Linked DNA regions of Homo sapiens: region 1 is linked to region 2. Evidence: fine-mapped expression QTL. Tissue or cell type: monocytes after Pam3CSK4. Region 2 holds a variant in brackets; the other region holds the start of a gene. All regions are shown on one strand. Distances are between the middles of the regions.

The links. PIP is the estimated chance that this variant, and not a neighbour inherited with it, causes the effect.
Region 1: it holds the start of USP38-DT, and the variant in region 2 is fine-mapped to the expression of USP38-DT in monocytes after Pam3CSK4 (Quach 2016, PIP 0.92).

What each region holds. Positions count from the first base shown.
Region 1 is chr4:143,183,575-143,186,244 of GRCh38, reverse strand. USP38-DT (USP38 divergent transcript) reads left to right here and starts at 1,384. Exons shown (of 4, transcript NR_185979.1): 1 at 1,384-1,737. It overlaps USP38 (ubiquitin specific peptidase 38), which reads right to left and starts at 1,328. Exons shown (of 10, transcript NM_032557.6): 1 at 113-1,328. The coding sequence starts at 794. RefSeq lists silencers at 937-1,186, 1,407-1,456 and enhancers at 508-1,392, 1,393-2,278.
Region 2 is chr4:143,127,646-143,130,492 of GRCh38, reverse strand. The region is part of intron 1 of USP38-DT (USP38 divergent transcript); the gene reads left to right. Among named protein-coding and RNA genes, the nearest start is that of USP38-DT, 56 kb to the left of the region's middle. The variant T/A (reference allele first, on the strand shown) is at 1,200.

The DNA of each region.
Region 1 (2,670 bases), 56 kb before region 2:
TCTCGCTTAAGAATGTTTTTAGGGCAGGAGGAAAACATGGTGTGAATGTGTGTGTGCAAGAGAGACATATACTGATTTTTTATGAGATATTCTGAAAGATAATGACCCTTACCTGTGGAAGAGATGCTTGCAAAAACTTCTTGCAGGGAAGGCAGTAGTGTGGCAGGCTCGGCCTTCCAGATGTTCTGCAGCAAGTTACTCACTTTTGTCACCTGGGAGACATATTCCCGCAGCTCTCTTTCCTGGGTGGACACGCACTGGAAATGGCCTATCGTTCGAACCAGCTGTTGACAGAACGTGATGGACAATTTCCCCTTGGGGATGCATTGCACAAAGTCGGTCAGAAGGTCGCTCAGTCGGGCACAGAGCTGCGGCTCCGGCCTCTCACACACCATCCGTAACACCTCTACCTGCAGGAGGCTAAAGAGATCCAGCACCGACGGACAGCTCATAATCAGCTTCAGGCCGTTGTGAATGTAGTCCAGGATGGCTACATCCTTCCTGTCCAGAGAGTGGTAGCCCTGATGAAGGAGGCCCAACACGAAGGTCTTGTTGAAGAAGGACTCGAACTCTGGCCGGTGGTATCGTGCGTAGGCCTCCAGCACCTGGTGCCCCACCTGCCGCTGGAAAGGGTCCTGGCCCTCCAGGATGAGCCGGGTCGTCAGGTCAAACATGGCCTCGCACTGCGCCTCGTCTAGCCAGTGCTCCGCCGATTCCACCACCTTCCGCACAATCACCCGCTTGAGGGGCAGGGGATGCGAGGAACTCACAAGGCCCTCCAGGATCTTGTCCATTGTCGCCACGCTGCAAGGCCAGGGCCAGGGGATAAGGAGCGGGTGGCGGCAGCCCCGAGGTGGGGCAGGAGAGCCCCGGGGCGGAGATGAACTTGGAGCGCCGCAGCAGCAGCGCGACGGGCCACGGCCACCGCCGCCTCAGCAGCCACATTTATGGCGCAGGGAGACCCATCCAAGCCGGGGCGGGAGCTAGCGAGCCTGGAGAGCCTAAGAACCGACACCTGCGGCTGGCCTAAGGCGCCAGAGGCCCGTACTCCGCCGCCGCCCCGGGCCCTCGATCCCACTCAGCATCAGCGCCGAGGGGCCTGTCGGGCCCCCCAGCGGCGTCGGCGGGAGCTCAGGGCCCGGGGCTGCTAGCCGGCGGGTGGAGGAAGCACGCCTCCGAGTTCCGGGTCAGGTGTGGGCGTCCAGTCTCCAGCAGGTCGTGAGAAGAAGCCGGTCCTGGGCTGAGTCAGGAGGCGCTGTCACGGAGAGTGCTGGGATCAGCCGGGGAGAAGAGACCGAAGCGACACCCTTTGACCCGGATTTTGAAGTGCCGGCAAACAGGAAGTGAAGGACCTAAGAACCTCCGGAAGGACCGCCCCTCCGCCCCTCTGCCCCTCCGCCCCTCCGCCTGTCCGCCTCTCTCCTTCTCCCTTGTTCCCTCTCTCCCTCCCTGCTCCCCCACCTCCCTCCCGAGTCGTAGACTCCCTTCCCCCCGGCGCTGGGAGTCTCCTTCCCGCCCCGCCGCGCAGGTGCGGCGACGGCCGCGTCACTGGAGAGTGTGTCGAGTCACAGGCGGTCTTCCGCGCGGAGCGTCCCCGGCGGACGCTGCGCAGATGGCTGCGACTGTAGGATTCTTGCCGGCTAGTCTTCGTCGGTTCCGCCTGCGTCAGGTTACTCGTGAAAACTCGAATAAGTGCTATCGATGTGAAATCCGAGGAAAAGAGCATTTGGGGGAAAAGTAAGGAAAACTCAAAACTCGGATTGAGAAGTCTGCCTTGGCTCATTAATCAAGAATTGCGCTTGCGCGCCTAAATGTGACTGCCTTTATCCTGCGATGTCGGTATTGAAGTAAGAGCAATACTGGCGGCGTACCTAGCATTTAGCGACCATCAGTATCAGTAGCAGGCCTCTAGCAAAGAACCAGTTAGTGAGCTTTGTACCATATCGAAAATTATAAGCCGTCCAAAAAAGTGTGAGAGTAAGGAAAATGGCAGATTAGAATCAAAATATTTTTATACCTGTGTCATACAAGGGTACTTTGAAAATAGAAAACCAGGTGGAAATACCACAAAACTTATTGTATATGTTGACACCGAAGATGGTTTACAATAGGGAAGAACAGGTGCAATCATGCTTGTTCTGTTTCATGCCAAATTCCGAAGATTCACAGTAAGAATTTAATCAGAGGTCTTTATATTGGAAAATATTGCCTAACTGTAGCCTGCTTCAGGCTTGGTTAATATAGTTGTGAAACTAGACATTAAGGCCCTGTAATACAGACAAAACTTTAAAGAAATAGGTCATTTAAAATGTCCCGTAGAAAAATGAACAAAATTCTGTTACTTCAGTTTGCTAAATAGTGTTTTGTTTTTTTACCAAGTTACAAACACGATTACACTAATATATTCACACGTCGATTATGGTAGTCTTAAGAAGAGCAGTTTAGAGGAGACAGGAGCTTGAGTAAAAGGGAACTTAAGACCAAGTTGACTCGTAGGAAGATACGGAAGATAAAAGAGAATTGAGGTAATTAATCTATCAGTCATGCTAGAGACAGGAATGATTTTTCCAATAGGAGGTGAAGGTACACAGATGTTTGTCTTTACTGGGAATAATGCCACAGTGGAAGACAAAGGTAATATAGAAAATAAAATATTAAGAAGGAATTAAG
Region 2 (2,847 bases):
GGCAGTGTGCTCTTGAGTGAGTTATTTAACATTGTTTTCTAATCTGTAACATGGGAAAATGATACCTTATAGTGTTAACATAAGTGTAATTCAAGTGGCCCCCAATAAAGCATTCATATAAAATCACTTAAGCTTTGTTATCTATGATGAGTGATCCAGTACTGTGTCCAGTATTCTAAGAAATTCCCACTGAGCTTTAAATTGTTTTAAAATACTTTTCCTGGACTCTTCAGAGGTGTTTCAGGGGTTCTGTGAACATGCAATTTGAATATCATTTTAAAGTTCAGTTCTTATTTATTGCACACAAATGCACATGTACTATTGTAAGGCTTAAAACACAAGCAGCAGTTCTGTCCTCCATCCTCCCTATCCCCAACCCTCTCCCAACCACTTTCAATTCTTTTTAGCTTGTTTCTTCTGTTATTTCTACTATATTTCTATATACTACCCTTTCTTGCTTTTTAAATTTTAAACTTCCTGTTGACTTCCTAATATGGAAGATGAGGCTACAGCTCTCTTGTCTCCATAGAAATACACATGGCCTTTCCCGCTATGCTTTCCATACACCTGAATCATAATTTTTGGTTCAATGAATAGTAATTGTATACATAGTTTTAAATATGTAAATATTGTTCATAGCTAAGCCATGTTTATATTTCCTTTTGTGTACAATTTTTGTTTTTCATGGAGTTAAAAATTGCTTCATTTTAAAATTTGCTTTGTTTTCTATATTCATTTTACTAATTCATCCCCCCCAAGTTTTCTACAGAATCCTGGAATTCTTCTCAGTGTAGTCAATACATTGATAGTTTGTCGGTTTTAATGAAGACATCCCTCTCAGAGCCTGTGCCGTTCTGCAGTTGGGATTGATGCGTCTCTAGGCCTGCAGGGACTTCCCTTCACCATCATATGGGAATCCTCTGTGACTCTACCCTGTGTGGATTCTTCTGTGCCCTGTTTTTCATGTCTTCCTCTTTCTTAGTTTATTCCCTTAATTTGGTGGAGCACGTTCTCCAGTAGCTACCTAAAAAATGGTGAATTGGAGGTAAATTGTTGAGACCTTGCATGTCATAAAATATCTTTTCTACTCTCATTCTTATATAATAGAGAGATTGGTTTCAGCATTAATGTAGAAAAAAATTTTCCCTTAGTGTTTTGAAGGAATTATTTTTTGTCTTTTCAGTTCAATATGTATAATT[T/A]CCCTCCACAATTTTTTTTCTGAATTAATAATGAACTTAGATTTAGCCACATGCTTTCAAGGAGTTTTGAGTCTATAGGGGAAGATTTGGAATTAAAAAACTAATATTTGATTTTTAACTTATGTCAGGCAATAGTACAATATATTACTGATTTAATTTTTCATGACATTTAATTTTGTAGTAAAGCAACTGGGGCTCAGAAAAGTTAGGCAATTTGCTTGTGATCACTCAGATAAGTAGAAATTTAAACACAAGTATAGTTGACACTAAAGCCCATGTTTTTCCTGTTCTATAAGGCTGCCTTGCAACTGTTTGGTTTAGTCGTGCTTTGGGGCATGAATTTTTGTTTCATATCTGCCTCTTTCTGGCAAATCATGAATTAATATGTATAAAGTGCTTAGAGAAGTATAGTAGGTGCTGTATAATGTTCGATGTGTAATTATTAAAATTGATTTGGCTAGTCCTTTCTTTGGGTTCTGCTCTTCCTCTTTCCCACCTTGTTTGCCTAGTTAACTTCTCAATTGTGAAGTTATCAGGTCCACTTTCACTTCTCCAGTGAAGCCATTCCAACTAGACAAAGCCTCATCCTGCCCTAAACTAGGTAAGTTTCTATCCACGTCTCACATTATAAATGTATGGGACTCAGTACCTTTTTTTCATATCACAGTTGGTACTTACATGTTTTTGTATTTGTTTCAAATTTGTTTTCCCCACTAAAGTCTAATCTCCATGTTTGTTTTCTTCACCTTTATACCCACAGAACCTAGCAAAGACTTGAAATATAGGTATTATGTAAATAATTGTTGAAATTTTGTTGAATAAATGAATACTGAGCACAGGAAAATCTAAATATATGTTTTCTGTCCTACTGCAGTAGTATATTTTACTAGAAAGTTAATTAAAAAACAAACAGCTGCTATCATCTTTTCAGCATTTCTTATGTACTGTAGCTCAGAGAAAACCATTCTCCCTATATGCTTGCCTCAGAGAAGGTGGAGGTTGCAATTCATTAGTGGGTTATGAAGTCAATTTAGTGAATTGTGATCAGCTTTAAAAATGATATAAAAGAGAAGAGAAAGTGTCAGAGTGCATCACATGTAGTAAGAGGTATTATTTCATGAAACATTTGTTTCAGATTATATTATATAAAATATATATGATTATGTAAAGAGGACCACATTATGAAGACTATTTTTTATTGTGGATATGGTCATAAAGTTTTGCCAAGCCAGTATTTCTAGAGCAGGGTTTGGCAAACCTTTTCTGTAAAGAACAACATAGTAAATATATTCCATTTTGTGGGCCATATGGTCTTTGTCACAAATGTTCAGCTCTGCCATTATAGTATGAAAGCAGCCATAGACAATAAGTAAACAAATGGACATGGTTATTTTCCCATACAACCATACAAAAACAGAAGGCTGGGAAGATTTGACCCAAAGGCTATATTTGCAGACCCCTTCCCTAGGGGGACAGGTTGGCAGGGAAGCTTTTATCCCTCTCCCTATTCTGTTTGTTGGAGAAGATAATGTAATTAATTTGGGATAATCTGATTAATCTGACAGTTCTTGCTTAGTGGATGAGAAAATAGGGAAATAGGCCACTCCCTAAGTGAAGGTACTTTAGACTTTCATTCTCATCCTTTTTA